4 linked regions of the Homo sapiens genome follow. The protein of the gene in region 1 purifies or fractionates together with the protein of each later gene. This does not show direct contact. Each region holds a gene or a part of one and is shown on either strand. Other genes may lie near its edges.

Region 1 (7,480 bases):
CACTGTATACCCAATTCCTGCTTCCCACCTCATCCCAATGCCCCCCGGGTTTCCCCAGATCCCCAAGCACCTTTCTTCTCCGAGCCATAGGACCAGTCGTTGTCATTGATGTCATCATTATCTTCTTGGTCACTCTCAGACTTATTCATATTGTTGCTATTGGCAATCCTGCCAAGGGGAGGGAAGAGAAAGGGGCCAAGGGGAAGGAAGAGAAAGGGGTCAAGGTGGTCACCCCGCTCTGCCCCCAACTTCAGAAGCAGGTGGAGCATCTGGGGCCAAGTAAAACCCACCCTCTGTACCTTCCCAATGCCCCCGGGGGACTACACCATGGCACAGGCTGCAGAGAACGGGCAGCTCTGGTTCCCTCACCGGCGGTTGGCGATTCGGCTGCTGTTCCGACCCATTCCCAGGCACTTCTCCAGATGGGGAGCAAAGCGGGAGGCGGCAATGCTGCGACTGCAATTGGGGCAAACACACTCCTTGCTCTTCCACTGGTTGAAAACCTGTCCAAAGATGTCCAAGCCCGGCTGGTCCACGATCTCTGGGGACAGGAGAGGCTGGCGATCAGGGTGGGCAGGACCCTCTCCTCTTGTTCCCACCTGGGGTCCCACGGCCTCTTCAATCCCTCCCCCGGCTCACAGGAGCTCCAGGTGCTACATCTAGCACAGTTTCCAGAGAAGGAAACTCCAGGCAGTCCCAGGGAAGGGCTGGACTGCTGCTCCTTCACCCTGAAGCTCACCAAAATCCTTCATGCTATCAGGGTCCGTGTCGTCCAAGAAGAAGTAGCCACACTTGACAGCCCGGTGTACCTCAAAGCAGAATCCCAAACAAGAATCCTCGACCAGGTCCGCGTATATCTCCTGAGCGATGGCCTGGGCCCCAGGGGAGAACATCTACGGTCACAAGAGTCACAGCCCCCTGGACTCTCACCAACCAAATCTGCTGCCAACTGGCCCCAGCCAAAAATCATGCTTTCTTTGCCATTTTCCCCATCTTGACTTCGTGTTCTTTCTTCTTCCTGGATCCTTGGCTTTTTCAGCTGGCTATTCCCTTTAAGGAACAAGGCTGACTACCCAAATTCCTCTTTGGTGTGGATGCCAGATACAGCGACGTAGAGACATCAAGAGAAAGAACTGGAGGCACACGTGGGGGAGCCCTCACCTCTAGTTTGCTGTTATCCAGGCCAGACAAAGACATTTCCTCCATTTTCATTTGTAAACTCTTGTGGAGACGGCGCTCTGACTGCTCATAGCACAGCGGGCGGCAACACGGCTGCACACACGGGGGTGGGGGTGTTGTTGTGAGTCCAAGGCACCTCTGAATGCGGCCACCTTCCCTCCCCACCTCGCTGCCCAAAGCTCAGTCCTGGCATCAGGGTCTCTCCCTCCCCAAGGCCCAGGCTCCCTAAGTCTGGATGGTCCTTCAAGGCCTGAAACCTAAAGGGGGCCTAGTCTTTCCCAGGCCTGAGCTCAGGCCCTGGACTCCACTGCCAATCAGAGTCTGGGTCTATAGGAGGCAGCAGCTCACCCTAGGTCCCCAAAACTCAAACCCCTCTTTGATACCCATGGTGCAATGCAGCAGGGGGAGGAGAAGGAACTCCAAGGCCTCAAAGCAAACCCACAGGGTGTGGCAAAGAACTGCACAGACTCCTAAATACACCCCCCGCCTTCCCTAAAGACTCTCCTCAGAGTCACCTCTGCTTTCAGCCAGGATGTCCACTTGGGGGGGTACTGCTACCAGAAGTAGAAATGGCCCTAGGACCCTACAACCTTCACCCCACTCTGTCTTCCCTTGAAATCAGCCTGCCACTCCACGAGGGGAGCAGAGCCCACAGGAGCCTAGAGCTAAGGGACATTTCTAGCCACCATGAGCAGGAACGGCGGGGGGTGGGGGGGAAGAGCCTGGTAGGGTGGCACGCCAGGAGCGGGCACTCCCCTTACCTGTTCTTCCTTTAAATAACCACCCGCCCTCCCTCAGGACCAGCCCGGAAGTCTCTCCAAGAGCCCCAAAGTCCAGGAACCCCCACCCAAGGATTCAGACACAGAACCCACAACCCAGGGCCCCTCGGAACGGTGGGTACGAGTTTCAGGAGCTGCCGGCCTAGAGTGGGGTGGGGACTGACGAATGAGCCGGGGGCACTGGGAAGGGTAGGAGGCCGGGCCTCGGCTCTTCCCCCGTCCCTGCGGCACTGCTGCTGCATCATACCGACTGGGGGGAGGACAGCCGAGCCGCCGGGGCCGGCGCCGGGCCGGGACAGACCGACCCCCAGAGAGTGGGACGCGTCCCAGCCCCTCTCCTTCCCCGCCCGCCAGCAGCCCCGGCCGGCCGGGGAGAGGAGTCCGGGAGGGTGTCTCTATTGTCCCGGGGGCTGGGGCCTGGCTCCCTAACAAAGGCCCCGCGCCCCCTCCCCGGCCGGCCCTGCCCCGCCCAAGGGGGACCCAGACGGGGGAGAGCCAGGGGCCCCGGCCCGGCCGGGAAGCTGGGGGAAGCCGGGCGTTTCCGCGTCGGCCCGGGGGGAGGGGAAGGGGCGCTGACCCAGACCTGGGGGGAGGGGGCCCAAGCCCCGCCTTGGGCCCCGCCCCCCGCCCCCCACAGGCCCCTCCCCCGTCCCCGTCCCCGTCTCCGTCCCGTACTCACCCCGCCCGGGGGGCCGCGCCGGGGCCCGGCAGCCTCTCAGGGCCGCGTCCTCCGGCGGCGGCGACGGCGGCGGCTGCTCCGGAGCCCCATGTCCGTCGGTCCGTCCTCGCCTCTCCCCGGGGCCCAGGGCCCGGGGCCGGGGGGTCGGGCCGCCCCCCCGCCTGGCCGCCTCACCGGGCGGCCATGGCCCCTTCCCCTCCCTTCTTGTCCCGTCGCCGCCTCCTCCTCCTCACCTCACCCCGCCCGCGCGCAGTCCGCGCGCCGTCCGCGCGCCCCTCCCCCCGCCCCCCACTCCAGCCCGCCTCTCCCGGGCGGGGGGTGCGGCGCGAGCCCGGAGCGCGCGCGCGTGTGCCGCGACCGGAGGATGGATGGATGGAGCGAGCGTGAACGCGAGCGTGCGCGCGCGCGCCCCTCTCCCCCTCCCTCTGCGCGGGCGCGAGGCCAAGCGCGAGCGCGCTCCAACCTCCTCCTCTTCCTCCTCCCGCCCCTCCCCAACACCCCGCCCTCCCCCTCCCTTCCTCTTCCTTCTTTCGCTTTCGCGCGCCCAGCGACTGCTCGCGCCTGCTAGAAGGGCCCGAGCGCGTGCATCTGCCCCGCGGCCGCAGCTCGGCAGCATTTGCTCCAGGGGGCGGGGACCGGGAGGGGAGGAGGGGCGCCACGCCGCCGTCCAAAGTACCGGCGGACGGGGACGGGGGCGGAGAGATGGGCGGGGCCTTCGCGGACCTCCCCGACCAATCGCAGGGAGGCCTCGGCCCGGGAGGACCAATAAGATGGGGGTGGGTGGGGCGGCGTTCAAGGTGAGGTGCGCGGTGCGCTGGGGGCGGAGACGTTTTGCCGTCCCGGCCGGCTCGGGGGCGGGGGCAGCGGGTGGCGTCGAAAGAGAGCGCCGGCTGCCAGCCGAGCCTGGGACGCCTTCCGGCCCAGGCTCCCCCGCCCTTCCCTCGGGGCTCCCCGCTCTCTCCCCCGCCACCCTCCGCTCCCCCCTTTACCCCGAGGCGTGCAGCCACTTCTGTGAAGAGGCCAGACTTGAAGTGGGGCGCAGTTAGGACCTCGGGGCGGAAAGCCTGTGGAGCCTAAGGGGCTCGCCCGCGCCTCAGTTCTCCCGGTTTCTGGGCGGGTCTCAGCCCACTCCAGGCTTGCGGACCAACAAGCGGCCGAGATGAGGGTCCGCTGCTGAGGTCGGAGGCCGAGCTGCGCCCTTCTGCGCGGAGCGCCCTCCCCGCCCCTCGTCCTAATTTAGATCCCACACCTGCTCGCCTTTCCTGCTTCCGGAACCCACGCTGGACCCCCACCCCTCCAGACAGCCTCCTTGTCACTGGCCAGATCCTTCCCCCGACCCAGTGCTGTTCCCCTGGGTGCAGCGTGTCCCTGTGCTCACGCTCTCAGTCCCTCTTTACCTTAGGAAGGGACAGGCCTTTTCCCAGCCGCGGTGGATGGCTGGATTGGCGCTTTCATCTCGGTTACTCTGTGTGTGGTGTCCTGGAACGGTTGTGTGACAGCCCTCTCCCCTCAAGAGATAAGATTAAAAAGGAGGATAGTCTGTAATCACATACTTGGAGCCATCTTTGGTTTTTAGTTTTCAGCAAATACTTATTTTTTTCTCACCGATTTCTCCCGAGAAACAGCAAACATTTATTGAGGCGATATTCCAGAGTAGTTCAGATCAGGCGTCTGATTTGAATTTAAATCGTTGGGCCTAGCAAATGAGTTTCCTGTGCCTCAGTTTCCTCTGTTGTCAGTGGGCATAATGATAGTCCTATCTCCTTGCGTTGCTGTAGTGATTAACAAGTCAGTGCATGTGAAACTCTTAGCTCTGTGTAAGTGCTTGGTAAATCTTAGCTGTTATTCTCACGGTGCTCCAGGTGCTGGGATAAAAGATGATATAAGACAGTTGTGCTTCTTCAAGAAGTTCACTGTCTTGTGGATAGATAGGTAGGATAATAATTGCAAAACAGTGTGAGGAAAACAACAGAGAGAAAACAGAGGTAGACAAAAGGAGACATCAAATGATGTAAGAGAGTTGGTCAAGAAAGGCTTCTTGGGCAGGGTGCGGTGGCCCAGGCCTGTAATCCCAGCACTTTGGGAGGCCAGGAGTTCGAGACCAGCCTGCAAAAATGCAAAAATTAGCTGGGCGTGGTGGCGGGCTCCTGTAATCCCAGGAGCTACTCGGGAGGCTTAGGCAATAGTAGTAATCCAGCTACTCGGGAGGCTTGGGCAGGAGAATCGCTTGAACCCGGGAGGCGGAGGTTGCAGTGAGCTGAGATTGCGCCACTGCACTCCAGCCTGGGCAACTGAGCGAGACTCCGTCTCAAAACAAAACAAAAAAGAAGAAAAAGAAAAACTTCTTATAGAGGGAGATGAACCAGGTGAAGGTAGGCCAAGAAGGCATTGGACATCCCCAACTGGAAGCTTCAGAAGCATGGATCAAGCTGGAACAGAGGAGTGGGTGGCAGAGCAGCAGGAGGTGAGCAGGCTGGATAATACAGGACAAAGCAAAGTAGGTGTTGAAAAGTTTGTGGGCTTTAGCCTGTAAGCTGTGAGGAGTCCTCAAGGGGAATCATTCACCAGACTTATATTTTTAGTGGATCATGCTGGAGTATGGTCTGGAGAATAATTTAGAAGCAGTAGGTTTTTTGTTTTGTTTTGTTTTGTTTTTTTAGACAGCATTTTGCTCTGTCACTCAGGTGCAATCTCAGCTCACGGCAACTTCTGCGTCCCGGGTTCAAGTGATTCTCATGCCTCAGCCTCCTGAATAGCTGGGATTACTGGCGCACGCCACCACGCTCGGCTAATTTTAGTTTTGTATTTTTAGTACAGACAGGGTTGCACCATGTTGGCCAGGCTGGTCTCGAACTTCTGACCTCAGGAGATCCGCCTGCCTCAGCCTCCCAAATGCTGGGATTACAGGCATAAACCACTGGGCCTGGCAAAAGCAGTAGGTTTTTGTTACTGATTGAGGTGTGTGGAGGAAAGGAGAGGGAGGTCTTGAAAACACCTTTACTAGGATGGGGAACTCAGGGGAGGACATGGGAGGACACAGGATGACTTCAGTCTGGGATATATTGAGGTTACTGTGGGATCAGCTGATGGAGACCCAAAAGGTGGTTGAACTCAGGTCTGGCACAGAGAAGTAAGCTAGGTCTTCAGGAACTTCAACAACATCGCCTCAACCTTTGTTTTCTCTTATCTCCCGCCTCCTTTTCAGGAATTCTTCACTCCAGTGATGCTGATCTGTTTCTTACCTAAATATGCCCAGTACATTCTGCCCTAAGGAATTTGCGCCATGGCCAGAAAATCCTCCTGGCTTCTCCCTGTTTACCTAAATCCTTCCTCATATCCCCACCCATGGCCATCCTCATACCAAACTTCTTTACAACTAGACTGTACTATTCATTCTGTGCTTGGCCTGGGCTGCTCTGTGGTGGTGACCTCTTTGGGCACGTGCCCAGTCTCCACAGTTAGCACCAGTTCATAAACACTAAGGCCTGAGCTGGTCCTGACTCTGGGTGAGGCCCTGGGGTTACAGCAACAAGCAAGAGAGACACACAAACCTTGTCCTAGCGCAGCTTACAGCCTAGCAAGGCCTGATGTGAAGGAAATAAGGCCTGAGTGTGAAGGCATTCAGGCTGCTGAAGAAACGTATAGTGTGGAGACCTTTTTTCTCAGGAGTTCAGGGAAGGAAGTGGTCTTTTAAGTGGAGACCAGAATTAACTAGGCAGAGAGAACACCATGTGTATAGGCCCTAGGAGAGAGCATGTTATGTTCGAGACATGAATGGTCAGTGTGGCTAGAGTCGGGGGAGGGCTAACGGGGGCAGCAGATCCCCAAGGGCCTTGTGGGCCAGACCTATTCACCCACTCAGCAAATCTTTCTTGATTGTCAAATGTATATCAGGCAGTTTCAGGTGCTGAGATTACTGTAATGAACAAGCAGATAAGGTGTCTTCTACTTGGGGAGATAGATAATAAACAAATACATAAACAAGAAGATGGAGGAGGCCTCTCTAGAGCAGGTGGTTGGGAAAGGCTTCTCTGTGAGAGGACATGTGAGTTGAGGCTTAAAGAATGAAAAAAAAAAATCAGGTATGTGTAGAGTTGGAGGAATAGCCATTCTAGGCAGAGAGAACAGGTGCCAAGACCCCGCAGGTAGGCATGTTTGAGGAACAGAAGAGATCACTTGGTTGGATCGTTGTAAGTGGTTAGGAAGAGCAGGGTGAGAGAAGATAAGAGAAGGAATGCGGGGGCCAAGCCTTGTAGGGCCATGGTAAGACATGGTAAATTTTCAGTACAGAAATAATCAGATTTATTTCTGAGATAATTTTGGCTGCCATGTGAAGAATGGGCTGTAGGGGGCGAGAGTGGAAGCAGGAAGACCAGCTTTAGGAGGTCTTTGCAGAAGTTGAGCAATGATGGTGGCCTGAAATAGGATGGGAGTGGCAGCTGTGGGAGCCACCCTGTGGGAGGGGTCGACAGATTTGAGACAGCTTTAGGAAGTGGAATGGAGAGGTCTAGGTGATTGAACCTCGAGGTGAAAGGGAGAGAGGAGTCAAGGCCAATACTCTGCTTTCTAGGTTGAACGACTAAGTGTTTGGTAATCATTTCGGGTCTTGAGGTATGAGATGTCTGCAAGATATCCCAGGGGATGCAAGGGTGTCTACACAGGTCTGCAGCTTGGAAGAGCAGTCTCTGTCGGCACCACCTTTCGGAATGGTTGCATATGCGTGATAATGGGAGGTTGAAGGGAGAGACATGAACACCTGGGATAAAATGAGGAAGAGCTGACACCAACAGAGTAGACCAAGAAGGCAAAAGACAAGACAAGTGTTCACCAGATGTAATGAACA
Region 2 (6,497 bases), on another chromosome or scaffold:
CATATGCCTTTTTTTTTTTTTTTTAACTTCTCAGTTGGTTTAGATTTCAGTAGGGAAGAGGGGTTCTCTTGGTTGGGTCCTCTCAAACCCCAAAAGGATATAGTATTCTTTCCTACAGACATCATTTTGAATCACATTAGAAGCTCATATGGGAGATGTTTAAAAATCGGCTGTATTTTTCTCTCATCATATATATTTCACAGATGCAAAGTATAAAAACAAAAATCTTTTAATTTCTAAACCAACAACACTCTTCTTTCAATGAATCTTTTTTGTTATTGTTTAGCGGGTGAGTGGGTAAGATGCAGTGGATAACTCAAAAGACAGAGTAAGTGTCTCTCCTGAAAATCTCTTACTGATGACCTATGGATTTTTTATGAAACCTCCCCCAAATGCAACAGAATGCTTAAGATCTAAGGTTTAAGGATTCAATTGATGGTTATCAACCAGATCATAATTTGTTCTGTTAACCTCAGCCTACTGAATGAATAAAACACACCACAAGATTGGAAGCTTTTTAAAATATAATTTAAAACTATTTTGTACCAGTACAATATATTAATTTTACAAATGTAAAATTTTTATCAGCTGTTAAAGCATTTGCAAAAACCACACATTCTACTTCAGCTTTATTGCACAATATCTATAAGAAAATATTAATTTTTAAATTAGAAAACATAAAAATGCTTTCAATATAGAAGAGACAATCTGATTTTAAAGACAATACTCTATAAGAATGTCTACTCAGAAAATAACAAACTTTCACAGGATACCAGCTGGACAGATGCTTCAGCAGATCCGGTACAAAGCACTGTTTAAAACCAGTCCAAGATACTTAATCCAAACTGTATCATGATTCTTCATTAGAAATCTAGACACCACTCATGGTGGTTTCTTACACTTTAAAAAGTTGAGGCATTTTCAGTGTGAGCATTCTGAATATCTCTTACATATCAAAAACAATACTTCCAACTCAATAGCCATTTGCAGGGTTCTTTTTCCTTCATGCAGATTATCACTGGCAACTGTTTTTAATGACTATTCATGACCATTTTATTTATGCTGATAGAAAACATCAAGTTAAATACGCTTTTAAAACTTTGTCCTTTACAAAAATCAGTGTATAAATTTGCATCATAAAAATTAGTGTTGAGACCATCAAGATGGCCTTCATTTATATGGTTGTATATTAGTTGGTTTTCCCAGAGTTGGGAATGGCAGATGTCTCACTTTTCTATGTAGTGTAATCAGGAAATAAATCCAAGCACTAAACTGGAATCCCAAGACAGATTAATAAGGTTGCATGATGGATTTTAGGGGGTTATGACCCTGGACGCATATACTAATGTGGGTGTTAAAATACTGACAGCAAACCCTGGTGGGAATTTAATTTACCTCAGACAATAAACATTATCTGGAGAGACATAAAGGAAAATGTTCATTTGCATATTATCAGCGTGGCTGTGTGTATCATAGAAAAGAAAAAGAACCTTTATTAGAACGAGGATTCACCAGATTGATACATATATAGACCATACATCTTTTCCTATTAAAGCATGTTGATTCAATCTCATGTGTTTTCAAGTTTATGCCTTTGTGGGCAGGGAAATTATCTTTTGGAACTTATGGCCTGCATAAGCAAAGTCAAATATGATATTACACATTTGTGTAGAGAAAATAATTATTAAAATAGTGGTTATGTACTAACAAGTTTGTTGTAAGTAGACAGAATTATCAAAAACCTAGATGCTTATTTTAAAAGTTTGCATTATTTAGAATTTCTTCCTTAGGAACCAAAGCAGTTGCTTTCCTGGAACTGCATTTTTCAGAACTGCTCAAAGCACCTCATCTAGATGAGTGTTTTAAAAAATATATATAAAAAGTCTATAAAGAGACTTCAAACATCACATATTTCACCTCTTACAGGCTTTTTTAAAATCATGTATCCCTTCCTTAAAGTCCTTCAGAATAAAATAAAAGTAAACTCTCACATTCCATTAGAAAAAAATGGAAACATTCATTCATGGTCTGAAAATGTTATGGATTTCCCCAAATTTTGCTACTGTGTGCAATTTCCTCACACACAGGTTTTGAGGAAACCCCTAATCATCTATCATGAAATAGCTAATGGACATGCCATAGAAAATTTACCTTAATAGTAGTAAATAGATTAAAATCTATTCCATAAAATAAAAATGTCCTATGACTTCAATTTAAATACATATCTGAAAAGCTAAAAGGAGGTTTTTTGTTTTTTCAAAAGTGCTAATTATTACATTTACAAGTCTCTTCAATACATCATGTCCAATTCTTTGTAAAAAACTAAACCACCTTGCTTTAGGCACACTGCTTGGTGAGTTTCTAAGAAGCAGAGGGGAAAAAAAATCACTTGTCAATTAATCCAGCTTCCTTAATTTTACTGAAGAAGAATTTCTCCAGGATATTGGCACATTTGTAGTATTCACTCTCAGGGGGGTTGTACTCTTTGCAATTGGTAAAGACTCGCTGTAAGTCTGCCATGAATAATTTCTTAGACACGTAGTACCTATTCTTGAGGCGTTCACTCATGGTTTTCAGATCTGCACAGGAAAAAAAAATATTAGCAATCTTTGACTCCCTTTAAACACCAGCTGACAAAACTGGGACTGGGAAAGGAATCTATGTTGTTGGTTTGATTACATTTTTATCATCCCAATGCTTTTATTTAAGAGAAATTCTTATGACCAAGGAAAACAGTTCTTAAATCTTAAGTTCATTCTTTTGTGGGTTTTTTAAAAATGTAAAATCACAGCCATTTTAGCATTAAAGGGACCATTATTAGTCATCTGGTTCAATCCCCTATTCAGCACAAGGAAGCTAAGTAGATTAGCAACAATAAGTATGATGAACTGACTACTGTTAGCTATTCAGTCAGAATTATACAGAAGAGGCTCTATCTATATGGAGTAGAGCAGGTGGAACGTTTGTATTCAATCATTTAATTACTTAAAACAATCAGACTGCATTTGTTTCACTAAACTCACAGTTGTTTTGGTGTCATATAGAGAAACTGATAATAAATACATCTGTGAACACACCAGTGCCCTTGCATGTAAAATGATTCAAATGAATTTGCTTCAAGCTCCATCAATGAAATAAGAATAACAAACTTCATTTAATAATCTATTTTCTAAAGCAAGTAAGCCTTGTGAGACTATTGCAAAGAATATTTCCCAATATAGCTACTTGCTTTAAATTGTAGTATTTTACAGGTGAAAACAGTACTCCATCTAAACTGATAAAACTAAAGTAGGGTTTCTTCAATCCTCACTGTCAGGACTAATTTAAGGAATTCTATGCAGATTAGAATAGACGCTAACATTTGTCTATTTATGGTTCCCTGGTTGTCTTGAAGTCTGGCTTTATTGTTAAAAGCTATAATTGTATTAACTATGTGTGGAAAAATAAGTCAAATGGGAAAAAAAAAACCCCACTTCTGACTACCAATATCCCAAATTATAAGTATGTTATAAAATTTCCAGGGGGAAAGAAACCTATAACCAAATACATTGGGATCATCATTTAATAAGGTAAGTAAATGTACGTACAATATCCCCAAATGGGAAGGAATTCATTTGCATCAATATCCTAAATCCACCACAAAAGCATCAAAGAAGAAATGGAAAAAAGCTGCTTCTGCCTATCTCTTGAATAAAGCCTATCTTGGTTAGAGTGTATGTCATCACATCTGTAAATTCAACTTTCAACTTTTCTTTCTTCTCTAAAACAGTTTGGAGAGAGATAAAAATCTAAAAGCGCTAAGAAACACAAAGACTCATCAAATCTCACACTAAATGTCCCATCCAAGTGTGACTGAACAGATCAAAATGTTCTCTCATTTAAAGAAGAAAAAAACAATGAAATTGGCCCTAAGTAAAAGTAGATGTTTACATTCCTTTCACTTTTCCACCTAAATGTCTACCACTTAAGATATGCTGCCCAATATAATATGTATAATGTTTTAAAAGGAAGAAACATGTACCCCCCAAAAAGGGGGAGGGGGAGTAAAAGGATGACACGACACAAAGAAGTTTGTCCAAAAGCTTTTCGAACTTTTTTAGGAGATGGGTAAGAAAAGATGGAGAGAGCCTAAAATGCAGCAGAAACAAAGCAAGAATTATGGCGGTGTCTGGACTTTTCTGAATAACTATAACCAATTCTGAATACTTCCTTTCTATTCTAAAGCTATAGATAGCATTCTTCTTCCTCTGGCCTTCGTAGAGTTTTTTCAATTGACAAAATGAGGTGGGTTAAAAAAGGTGACTAAATATTGGTGGTACCAAATATAGAGACACCATTAAATTATTCAGTTTTCATGTCCTTTCCCCTTAACTTGGGAATTCTGGGTAAGCAGCAAAACCCTGCCTAGCCATCCATGGGTAACAAGAAGTCATGCTTGGGCCAGACTATACAGCTGATGTCCAGTGTGTGACTCCCTAAGTAAAACAGGTTAGATCCCATCCATATGAGAGAAACAGTTTTTCAGAATATGGGGAAAGAAAAGTAATGTTATTAGAAAAATCAAATAAGGAAATCGTGGGAAAATGTAAAATTACTGATTTGTCAATCTTGTCTTCAAATACAAGATAATCTTGGGGACAAGACTAAATATTTTACTCAGCATCTGAACAATACCAAGAAAAAAAATACTGCCCTACTGAAGAACACCATTTATAGCTTTAACTTTGTCCAGCACACATTTCAGCCCATCACTGGCCTTGCTCAATTAGGTCAGTTTCCCCCCTTGTGAGACTCAGCTATGCATACAGGTGGTATCCAACTGGAGAAGTTCACAACCTTCACGGGTGGGACCAAGCAAAACACTTTCAGAAAGCAGGCTGCAAGTAGGCTATGATCGACGAGATCTGCTAGACCTATCGCTGCACGTCATCAGAGTGCATGTGCACAGGGGCTGAAAGGGCCCCAAAGTCACACAGCTTCCCATGGGGGTTTCCCAAAAGAAGCTGAGATGGTCCAGAGGAAGAGGATGCAAAAATCAGTTAATTTATGGTTGGAAATGGACACAAAGAGTTTTAACATATTTTGCACATAGTGGACAATATTGATTCCCAAATCAGCCTTCCATTCAGAATTCTAGACTGAGTCAACCATACCCTTTATTTTCTTGTACTGAAATAAATAGTGGTAAGTCAGAGAGAAGAGAGAAAGAAAAGCATATAGATGTGTGTTCACTTTAAAGGGTGTAGGCTACTGAAATCATTACTACAAATATATAAAATATTCATGTGAAACATTTAAATGCTATAGAAAACACCTGTAAATAACTCAGTTTTCAAGGAGCTAATGCGTCCCTTTCACTCTTCCTTTTCACATTTTTAACACTTCCACAATTTTTTTTTTTTTTTTTTTTTTTTTGAGATACGGTCTCCCTCCAGTGCCCAGGCTGAAGTGCAGTGGTGCAATCACAGCTCACTACAGCCTCAAACTCCCAGGCTCAAGTGATCCTCCAACCTCAGCCTCCCAAGTAGCTGGGGCCTCAGGCGTGTGCCACTGCACCTGGCTAATTTTTTACTTTTTGTAGAGACAGGGTCTCACTACATTACCCAAGCTGGACTTTCACAGTTCTTAGCACCTGGAATAGATTACAGGTAGAAAAGAGACAGAAGACTCTGGCTCTCTCCAAAAATATGGCCACATAGCTGATAAAAAGAAAACATTTCAACTGGTTGTCACCCACACAATGCCAAATTAGTTTAATTTGAGCGACCTCAAATGATTCAATTAATCATTAATTTTAGAGTGGTGTGGGCACAGCACCAAACTGCACAATTCTACATTTCTGAAGACATCCTTTTTTGTTTGATTTTGGATATGAGACAAAGCGTAAAATAAAGAGTATATACAGTGACATTAACAGTACCCATCAAGGGCATGGAAAATCAAGAATTGTGGTAAGTAGAATTTCTCCCTCTGAAAGTACAGCAGTCAAGTACTTTAATCTAACTTCTTTCATTATTATCCTGAATAATTATTCAAAGGAATACCTATTTACGACAGACGCAAAGCATATCAAGAGGATAAGCTGATGTTTTTCTATTTGCACCAAAGAGTTAGAATATAAGCAAAGTTATATCTAAAGTGCCAGCTTTCAAATCTAGTGCTGTCTGCAGTTACCGTGGATTTTCTGCGTCTAGTGTCGTTAAGCTCATGTGGGCTCTAAACGACAGCTGCAGAATGTCTCTAATGAACACAGCCACCCACTTCTCTGCCATCACTGACCCGCCACGGTGCATGGAATCCCACCACCCGTCATACACTTCCTACCCTAAGCAGAGGAGTACAAATCAACCTCAGCAACCATTTGTCCCCCACACCGCCATCCAGAGTTTTAAATCTATACTTAGAAAATGTTAATGGTATTACCCATGGGGAACCTTATAACTTCATAATATCCTGGAGCTTCTGTTCTCTTCACAGGTTCCATGAAGGGCCAAGCG
Region 3 (7,774 bases), on another chromosome or scaffold:
TGCATATATACCAGAAAGACCATCAGGAATTGCTCACCCAAGTCTGTTCCACCAGGCCTGTGAACAAAGAGATTTCAGCCCATATATGGCTATTTTGGTGAAGTTAGCAATTTCAAGTTACACTGAACAGTGGGTGTCCTTAATGCAAATATGTATAATTAGGAGCTAAATCTTCGTACCTTTATAGGACAAAGGACCTAATAAGCGGGATGTACCACCTGTGACTTCTGAGGAAAGGAGAGCTTTTCATTTTTTCTTAAAAGAATCCGTTTCTCAGCCAGGCACGGTGGCTCATGCCTGTAATTCCAGCACTTCGGGAGGCCAAGTGGGCAGATCACGAGGTCAAGAGATCAAGACCATCCTGGCCAACATGGTGAAACCCCGTCTCTACTAAAAATACAAAAATTAACTGGGTGTGGTGGCACGTGCCTGTAGTTCCAGCTATGCAGGAGGCTGAGGCAGGAGAATCGCTTGAACCCGGGAGGCGGAGGTTGCAGTGAGCCAAGATCGTACCACTGTACTCCAGCCTGGCGACAGAGTGAGAATCCGTATCAAAAAAAAAAAAAAAAAAAAAATCTGTTTCTCATGAGGCAAAGAGAATCTGAGAACAACAGTCTTCTGAAATAGAAACAGGGACTGGGGGGAAAGGATGTGAGTTTTGTGTGTGATAGTCATAACGCATCACCCAGACCTGAGAGGTGACAATCCTGTGCTATACCATGACCTTTACTCAACTTTAATTTAAAGATTTCCACAGCCTCATCATCTTTTATGGACACGTTGCCAGTAGCCTGATAACTGGGTCTTGCAAGCACTTAGAGATCTCAAGAGTTTGTGTGTGAAGAAAAATAATCTCTAGTGATGCTTCCCACTGCCAACACACATGAACATTTAACACAAATAAGCTGCCACTTGTAAGAAGTCCACTTGACATCAATCCCTCGTGCATCCTGAAGACACCTGTCAAGATCACACTAAGATATTTAGAAGCAAACATCTTTAGAATAATGTTTTGTTCCCAAAGTGCTTAATTAGCAGAAACATTATGCTAGGGAACTGTCCTTGAATATGTACGCATTTTAACCTTCATGTTATTTTTTCTGAAGCACAAAATTTCCTCTCAGTGGATGGTCAGGAAATGATTGGGCACAGAAAACCAACCATCTGAAGTGTTGATTCATAAAATGAGTTCCATCTTTCCACGCAGGCTTCAGCTGCCTTCCAGGGTGACATCCCTTTTTATGAGGGGGACCATTCTTTGGCATCTAATGGCCTTTTCTCCATTCATTTGGGATGACCAATGCACCTATGGCCTACTTATGTCTGAACTCTTTCAATACCACCAACCTCTTCTGTCCCCTTGTGCCATCTTCCCACCCCCAATTTCAGCCAATTATGTTTATAAGACATCAGTTAGTGAATCACAATTCAAATGAATCCACCTATTTGCTTAGCAGCAAGTGGCCCCCGGAGTTGCTCCATTTGAAGCCCATAGGCCAGAGTTACATACGGCAGGCTTGCAAATGAGAACAGGATATGATTTATTTATGACGACCATATGTGTTTGATGCCCAATTGCAGCAGGTTGTGGCTTCTCTTGCATATCTTGGTCTGGGATGACCTATCTACTCAGTGTGTCCCATTTCAGGTACCGTATTTCCATGCTGGGAAAAGAGAGATGATGACTGCTGAGGGGCTGCACATACAGATGCTCCTAACCCTGCTTGCCACATAACAATCTGTGACCAAATGCAAAGTGGGCCAAATGTAACTTGCTGCAAAGGTTTGCCATGTACAATGGTTTTCAGTGGTGAGTGGAGAAGTAGCTGCTGGAATGACTGACCATGTGGGGTTCATTAAGCTGTTGTGCATTCACCCACGAGAAAGGCTGGGATGCTTGTGAAGGGAACTCCACTCTTCATTTCAGAAATTTTAACGCCCCACCATTTGGCAATGATGCTCCCAAGGAGAATGGCAGATATGCATCAGAAGGTTCAAACGTGGAGTCCAACTGAAGTGCAGTAAACTTCTGCCTTCAACAGTCTCACCCCCCTTTACCCCCCCCCCAGTTGTATTTATACTTTGAAAGAAGTTAACATGAAGCAGTAGTCACCTGGGCGTGCTCAATTTTTGACAAGCCTTAGTCACTCTGTACCCAGCAGAACAATTCACATTATATTCGAAATCCTGTGAAGATTCTGCCACACATGCTAACACTAAAATGCCAGTAGCTCCACTTACCTTCTTTATTAAGCCTCATAACCTCCCTGCTTTTTCCACCCTCTTTTCCAGCCTCTTCTAAATCTACATCTGCAGATGAAAAAGAAAAGGAAAACAGAAAATAAGGAAAAAAGGGGGGAAAAAAGCCAAAGTCAAGGGGGGAGGGAGAGTGTTTATTTGCAAACAGATCGATATAAATACTGTATATGAAATTCTTTCAAAAATTGACAATGCAACATTTTCTCCCAAGTCTGGGTTTCCATCTACCTGGCCCAGATAGGTACCCAAAAAACTATGCAAGCAGCAACAAAGTAGCCTTTTAAACGGACAACACCGTGGGGCTGCGAGCCCACCCCGCGGGCTGCCACGGGGAGCCGGGCACAGACAGACAGACAGCCCTGGCAGCCGGGCCTCTCCCTGTGCATTGATGATCTGTCTCTGTGTGTATTTATTTAGAGAGAGAGGGAGAAGCATGGAGGACACCGGGGGCCACTCTCTCTCTCACACACACACTTTTTCCCAGTGGCTCTAGGTGAATGGAAAGGTTACAGGATAATAAAAGGAGGAGGAGGTGGTGGGGTTCTTACTGTCGGAGCAGTGTAATTTGGCGGCGTCGATCCAGGAGGACCAGGGTTTGCCCAGAAACGCCTCCGGACTGGGCACTTTGCGATCCAGTGTCGCCATTGCTCTTCCTTCTTGTTGCTTTTTCCCTGTTCCTTCGGCAGCAGCAGCCGAGAGACACGGGATTCGAGAACGCTCCGACGTCATCTTCGGAACGTTCCGACATTGAGTGTTCTGAAAGGGGGAGGGAGGGAGGAAGGGCGGGATGGGAGGAGGGCGGCGGAGGAGGAGGGGAGAGGGAGCGGAGGAGGGGCGGGCGCTCGGGCTCCCGGAGCCGGCTCGGTGGGGCTCGCGCGCCCGCGGCCGCCAGGGGCAGCAGAGAGGCACCTGCAGTCCGCGCCCGCCCGCCCGCCGGGGCCGCCCGCCTGCCGGGGAGGGGCAGCGCGGACGGGCGAGCGCCGCGTGCGGGAGAGCGAAGGCTGCAGCGCGCCCGGCAGCCGGGATGCAGCGGCGCCGCCCAAGCCTGGGGCGCAGGGGTCGGGGCACACGGGGATAGGCCCGACGCGGGGCCGAAGGAAGGGTGGTCTTTCCCGCAGAGTTGCCGCTGGAGGACCGAAAGTTTTGCAGGCAGCCCTTGCTTCCAGCTTGTCGCTCTCTCCCCGCGTCCCTGTCGCCCAACGCGAGGCGCCCCCGCTGGGGTCCCGACGGCTTGGTGGGGAGGAGCCGTGAGGGGTTGCGCCCCCCACCCCCACCCGAGCCAGGGAAGGGACCCTGGTGACCTCGCCTCCCAGCCCTCACCCCCGTCACCCCTTTCTTCTCTTTCCTGGAGGACTTTGGACCATGGAGATTCTGCAGTTGTTGCTCTAGGAGCTGAAACCAGTGGGTAGATGTCGTTCTGAAACGCAGGTGAGTTTGGAGCGCTACGAGCTACCTTCCCATCTCAGGCTGCGGGGCGTGCAAAACTCAAAAGTTAGGGCCCCCGGACCCCCGGGTTCCCCGCGCGGTGCGTATCTCCGGCTCTCAGAGAACCACTGCATGGACTTTGCTCCAGGGTCAGCAGAGCGGGAGGGCGAATTTACGGCTCTTGGAAGACGACGCTAACGGGCCTAGCCCCTGAGCCGTTTCCAGCGCTCCCTGCCGTGAGACGAGGGTGGCCCGGGTTTGCGCAGGCAACCTTTGGCCAGGAATCTGATTCCTGGGAGAATTCACTTCAGGCTTAACTGCTCTAGCCAGCTAGAAAGGGAGCGCTAGATTTCCTCTGGATTTTGGACGTTGGGTGCTTTAGTTGAGATTTTCACCCTTTAAAGAAGGCTTTAAAAAGTCTTCTGTTACTTCTTTTTAACAAATCCTTTTGTTTACTAGAATTATCTAAACTATATGGACACCGCCCTCACCCCACAAGCGACATATTTTTTTTTCTCTTTCGCCAGCACCCTTTTAGCTCTCACCACTGCTGTTTCCCAAGTTGTCACAGCTGAAGCGCACTGATTGGAAGTTGCTTTGTACTGACTGAGTTCTGCCCTGGCTGAACCATCTAATAATTTCCCTGAGCTTGGCACCCTGTATCGCTAAGCCAGTGTTAGGATGGGCGATGAAGGAGGAGCTGCGGATTTGCCTTTAGTTGTGATGTTTGTGTGAGTCGGCTTGTTTGTGTCAGACTCAGATAAACTGCATTTGCCTTTGCTCTCTTTCGAAGGGCTCCTACATAGCTAAGGTGTCGCTGGGTGAAGAATTCCCATTGTAAGAATTGGTGGTGTTAACAAATATGTATTACTTGTTGACCTCTTGTTATATGCTAGACCCTGGGCTTGACATTTCCTTCCTTCCTTCCTTCCTTCCATCTGTCCATCTTAAGTCAACCAATATTGCCTGTCATGGAACAGCTGTGCCCTCCTGTCAGGAGGGAAAGATGAGTGAGACCCATCCTCACCCTCACAGAGATGCAGTCTGGTGGTCTCTGGAAGAAGGAAGTTGTGAAACTTACCGATTCCTTGGGAAAACAGGCAGGTACACAGGGACTGGCCTGTGCAGTGGGTGGGGTGGTCTCTCAGCTGTGCCAGTTCATAGAGGAACCGAAATCTAGTTAGGAGTGAACAGAAACTGCGTAACAGAAGATGGGCTCTGCTCTGCATCTTGGAAATTGCCAAAGATTTGTAATGGTAAGGTGAAGACTGGTCTTGCGGAGGGAGGGGGAATAATGGTATTAGCAGAGGCTTCAAGCTGAGTATAAACATGGTGTGTTTGGGTGTTGAGCATGGTTTGCCTGGGATGGAGAATTGTTACTGGGGGCTTGGGGGTGATGCATTTTGATACCCAGGCCTGGATCAAATTATGGAAGGCACCAAACGGCAGCCTAAAGAGTCTGGATTTTGTTTGACAATGGGGAGCTACTGAAGGGCTTTCTGTACCATAAAGATAAGTTAAAAGTGTGAGTTAGAAAGATTGGAGTACGGAGCCTGGTTAGAAAAGTAGTGCTGCAATATTCATGGTGTGAAGAGATGAAAGCCTGAACTTTGGTGGTGCTATGCAGGTAGAGAAGAGGAGACAGGTGTGAGACTGTGAAGAGAGCACCTGATCAGAGGGTGTGCTGTTGGGCTAGATTTAGAGGTGGGGAGAGAGAATGCGAGAGCTCTGAGGCATGAGTAATTAGATGCTGGAACACTTTCCCTTTCCCTTCTGCTTCCCTATTTTCCCTCTATTTATTATCTATTTTGATGTTTATTCCTGTGTTGTTGTGCATGCAAGGAAGGTGTAGGCAGCAGCTAATGTGGCCCCAAAGGTCTGTACCTCCTGGTGTTCATGCCCTTGTGTAATCCTCTTTTCTTTAGTGTGGGCTAGACTTAGTCACTTGCTGATAACAAAGAGAATATAGCAAAAGTGGTGGGATGTCATTTCTGAGGTTAGGGTACAAAACTGCTGTCACTTCTGTTGCTCTCACTCTCTCTTGCATGCCCTGTCTTGCTCTAAGGGAAGCCCACTTCCATGTTGTAAGCTGCCTTATGGAGAGGACTGTGTGGCAGGTAACTGAGGGAGGCCTCTGGTCATCAGCCAGTGGGGAACTGAGGCCCTCAATACAACAGCCAGTGAGGAGCTTAATCCTGCTAGTAGCCATGTGAGTGGGCCACTTGCTGGGAGTCAGTGACTTGAGCTTCCAGAATGCTGTCTCCTCTTCTGGGAGCTACTGTAAACCACTCAAAAAAATCAAAGGTGGCTTATCATCAGAAGTCAGGACACCTCAGTTATAGTGAAGCAAATCAGTGGTTCCATATTTTAACATGAGCTTACTTTCCCAGCAGAGTCTGTCAAGTGGAGGTTACTACACAGGACCTTGAAGAGAGTCTGACAGCCCAAATATTATTTCCTTCTATTTGGGATGATTTTACTCCACAGTACGGTAAATTGTGGGCTAGAATCTAAAAGTGATTTAGCATCTCTACAAAAGAAGACTTCACAGGCATTGCCACATTTAATTGATAACAGAGTATGTCTACATTGTTGCAGTTAGTTATGGAGTATAATTGTAGAGTTGCTTTACTCTAAGCCTTCTCCAGTCTCTCCATTGACTATAGACATAATAATACTGACTTGTTGAAACTATAACCCATCTATGACTGTGTTGGATAACATGACTGTCAATCAAATTGCATAACTGAGAGGCAGAGAATAAAGAAAGCATCGCTCATCAAACTACTAGACATTTACACTTGACTTTGGATGAAAATTGAGGTCAGTTGGAAGTAGTGTTCAGGTTTACATGCTGTGTATGTATTATATACATATCAATACTCATATATCAACTATATATGGTGATCGATTTATTACAGAATTGAATTCCTTTTGGTAGTAAATAATTACAAATGCTGTTAGAGGCAACAAGAATCTAATACATCCTTAATAAGGATAAAGTGACCTGTAAAACAGTAATTTAAAGCATATTAGTATAATGTCTATGTGATAAAACTATCTAGCAAAGGCAAAACACCCTCTTCCCCTCATGATTAATGTTTAGGAAGAAAAAAGGATGTAAATATTTTTATTGTTTTATTATCTTTCTTAGGAAAATGACAGTGTGGTTGGTTTAATTAAAAGGGAGAGTCTCCCATAGACCAAATAAAGAAATCTGTTCTGTTTTAATGACAATGGAAAATACCTATTTAACTTGAATAACACCTGGTTCTGTAGAAATGTGCATCTATTATGTATCCTGCATTCACTTAGTCTGATTCATGTGCTGTTTCACCACATTACTGAAAAGAAGAGAAGAGGGAATGTTAGCTCTCTCATTTGAGGATATTAAACTCCTGCCGTGGTTGAGGCACGGTGTGAGCACCCTACTTCCTACCTAGACTGTTGGGAGTTACCTGGAGGCAATGAGGAGAAAATGACATGTTCCATTAGAATGAGGCATCCCTGGAATTATTTGATGTTCTTTGCCTTAATTGAATCCATCTGTCCCATCTGCCACTCTTCTCTCTAAATTTATTTCCCTAACCCTTTCTCCCTGAGAATTATAATTTGGGGGAAATTTGTTACCTACATTGTTACCTTTTATAAAAGCTCTCGGCATCTGGAGGGCAGGTGTGCCTTCTACTCTGCCTTGCTAGACAACTTTACCTGCCTCTTTCCTGCCCCTTGCAGGCTGCTGGATTAAAAACAGGACTGGATAAAAGGCCCCCAGTAGCAACAGGAGTGGGAACGAAAATAGAAATTCCAGGCTTTTACTTATTGGTTTCAATACAGAGCCCTAGCCATGTGCCAGGCCTGGCTAACCGTGGACTCTATTAATAAATATAACTACACAAACATTTGCATTCTGACTGGGTCAGAACAGCCAGCACGGGAGTGTGTTATCTCAAGGGAAAGCTGTCTTAAAACTCTTGACTGATTCACCTGTGACTTTGGCCAGTTGGTGCTCCCTGGAACTGCTCTGGTGCTGAAGGTTGAGGTCATCTCTGTTCCCCAGAATGTGGCAGATCCAGCCCCATTCCTGACC
Region 4 (2,747 bases), on another chromosome or scaffold:
CTTTCTCCAGTAAATGAGGAACCGTAACTCTTTGGAACAAACCAAAATATAGCAGATGTAATTGTACAGTTCCTGATTAAACTTCAGTTGCAAAAAAGAAAGTTATTTCTTTAATTCTGTGGGAGTTTTGTATAATTTTACTTTTATGGTTTTTACACATACTTGAAACACTCTTTCTAAAGAATTAATAAAAACAGAAATGAGAAACATGAAAGATCTTTTTCTTGATACTGCTCCTTTTTCTTGATACTGCTCAAGAGAGCAAGCCTCTCTTGATACTGCTTCCTAGATTTAAGGGTAAAGAAAGTAGAAATAGTTCTCCCTTCACCCAAATTTGGAAGTATAAAACTTTCTGAACATGCCATTTAGAGGTTATGTCATTAGCTTTCCTGCCTTCTTATATTGTAATAGTTGCGATTCAAAAACACTGTTTCAATTTTAAATTCAAGACTTTTTATTTGAAAACCATCAGACTCAAAGAATTATGAGGCTCAGTTAATATTATTATGCCACATTATTTACATTTGTTAACTGTCATTTACCTGCTCTATGTTAATCTTTTTAGAAAAAATTTGCATTTCAGAAACAAAAAGCACGGATAGATATATAATATCAAAATATTCCCAAAGGATTTTGATGTTCCATCTATGCTTGTTAAAATGTATGATTATGATTAAACTTTTTATCATTCTTATTTTCCTTGGCATCCATAATCATGGAAAATTACAAGCTTGCAGTAAACATCCTAACTTAACTTAACTTTTAAACGATAGCATTTATTGTATTTGGTTTTGATCTGCCAGGCTTATAGATGGTATAAAATTTTCAGGGGATAATTTTTCACATCAAAATTCCTTCTCTCCCACATTATACATTTTAAAGTATGCACAAGGCAGAAAATATAGGGTTTGGGTTTTTTTCCTTCGTTTTATTCCACCTGATCTCCTTATAGTCCCAGAGAAGGAAGACTCAATGTACATTTCTCTCAGAAATATGACAGGTCTGTGTTTTTGTTGGTCTGGCATATGTTTGTCTATCTTGAACAGTCTGACAGGTAATTATTTATAAAATCTGGTTTTGCCCAGTAAGTTCATATAAAACCTTTCATTTTTCATCATAAGCCAGTAAGCTGAATTTAGAATAAAGCAAGGTCATTTATGTCTGTCCTGAACCAGCCTACATGTCCCCATAATTGCTCAATATTTTTAATTCCCTTTTCTATTTTTTATACTTAGGTTCTTTCTCTGACTCTTTGCACAATACTAAATTTGAAGTGAAATAAAACTTCCTTCAGCAGTGACTATAGAAACAAAAGAAAATTTACAGAAGGAATGTTTAAGAAAACTTCAGTAAATTATTTTCTCAATAATCATAATGTTAGAGCAGAAGATAGTCTTAGAGATCATTAAGAACAGCTGCTCATCTTGCAAATGAAAAAACCATGGCCTAGAGAGGGAAAGTGAGTTTCCTAAGATCACTCAATAATGTAGTGACAGACCAGAGATGAGAATCGATGGTCCCTAATTTTCAGTCGGTATTATACAGTATTTTCTACCATACTGGGTTAGCATAAGAATATTACTAAGACATGTTGGGGTTTTATGGCATATTTATCCTAGACAACGATGTAAATTTATTTAAAAACTGTACTAATTATGGATACATCCTAAAGCATACGTGTTATATAGTAAAATCTTCAGTGTGACTGTGGTATTAAGTAAACAGTCTGTTATCTTACACATCAGGCTTAACTCTAAGTCAAATGGAAATATACAAAGCTAGTTTCTATTTTTTGTCCCTTGTATTTTAGAGACTGAATTTGAAAATAAATAAGCCAATAAATAAATAGCGTCTCTTGATACTGCTTCCTAGATTTAAGGGTAAAGAAAGTAGAAATATTTCTCCCTTCACCTAAATTTGGAAGTATAACTTTCTGAACGTGCCATTTAGAGGGTTATGCCATTAGCTTTCCTGCCTTCTTAGATTGTAATCGTTGTGATTCAAAAATACTGTTTCAATTTTAAAACCAAGACTTTTTATTTGAAAACCATCAGAAGCACAAATATTTTTTAAATGGTGTATATAATTCCTGTATCTGGGGAGAACCCTTCATTTATTGCTGTTCTTTGTTTTTATAAAATAATAAACAAGCCATGTCTGATGCTTTTACCATGTAGAAGACAAATAAACATAACTGGTGATTCTTGGTCTGAAAGAAAACATGTTTACTTGTTTAGAATTAATTATAAAGTTTAATTTTATGAATTTTTTTACGTAGTTCTCAAATCAGGCAATGCTTTCCAGTTCATATAACCTCTTGTGTAAAACTGAATCACTAAAGAGAACATATTCTCTCATCTGCCCCCCTGGAATTTGGATAGAACCTTTCCAGGCTACATTTAAAATTCTACCATCAACCATGTATACATCTCATAAAATATTTTACAGTTTCCTGTATGCTCTGGCCGAACATTTCATAGTACATAAACACTCTGCAAATAATCTAAGGGCATCAAGTTGAATATGTCATAGCAGTGGCCACTACAAAGAGCTAATTCTCCAGCAACACAGTTTCTTATTTTTACCTTCTTATTTGAAACTCAAGATGAAACTTTACATGCTATTGTTGTACAGTGGCAGGGGTGAGAAGAGAGCAGGGAACTCTAGCAGTTTTTGTGGAATTGTGTTCATTAAAGCAAAGGCTTTCTGCAGAGGGCATCTAGCCAAGCTTAAACAACAAAACTTTG

Evidence for each region.
Region 2: the proteins of ATXN7L3 (region 1) and KAT2B purify together in Homo sapiens (affinity purification with mass spectrometry; 7 studies listed by BioGRID and IntAct, with this or other methods). This does not show direct contact.
Region 3: the proteins of ATXN7L3 (region 1) and ATXN7L1 purify together in Homo sapiens (affinity purification with mass spectrometry; 7 studies listed by BioGRID and IntAct, with this or other methods). This does not show direct contact.
Region 4: the proteins of ATXN7L3 (region 1) and SUPT3H purify together in Homo sapiens (affinity purification with mass spectrometry; 8 studies listed by BioGRID and IntAct, with this or other methods). This does not show direct contact.

What each region holds. Positions count from the first base shown.
Region 1 is NC_000017.11:44,196,859-44,204,338, forward strand, and holds the start of ATXN7L3 (ataxin-7-like protein 3), read right to left. Parts: upstream 3,027-7,480; 5' UTR 2,638-3,026; intron 2,512-2,637; exon of another isoform or gene 1,695-2,511; intron 1,273-1,694; 5' UTR 1,213-1,272; coding exon 1,162-1,212; intron 894-1,161; coding exon of another isoform or gene 873-893; coding exon 740-872; intron 542-739; coding exon 370-541; intron 169-369; coding exon 71-168; intron 1-70. UniProt on the Homo sapiens protein: Component of the transcription regulatory histone acetylation (HAT) complex SAGA, a multiprotein complex that activates transcription by remodeling chromatin and mediating histone acetylation and deubiquitination.
Region 2 is NC_000003.12:20,148,414-20,154,910, reverse strand, and holds the end of KAT2B (histone acetyltransferase KAT2B), read right to left. Parts: coding exon 6,424-6,497; intron 2,580-6,423; coding exon 2,386-2,579; 3' UTR 507-2,385; downstream 1-506. UniProt on the Homo sapiens protein: Functions as a histone acetyltransferase (HAT) to promote transcriptional activation. Has significant histone acetyltransferase activity with core histones (H3 and H4), and also with nucleosome core particles.
Region 3 is NC_000007.14:105,873,571-105,881,344, forward strand, and holds the start of ATXN7L1 (ataxin-7-like protein 1), read right to left. Parts: upstream 3,030-7,774; 5' UTR 2,989-3,029; coding exon 2,808-2,988; intron 2,311-2,807; coding exon 2,242-2,310; intron 1-2,241.
Region 4 is NC_000006.12:44,826,199-44,828,945, reverse strand, and holds the end of SUPT3H (transcription initiation protein SPT3 homolog), read left to right. Parts: 3' UTR 1-2,220; downstream 2,221-2,747.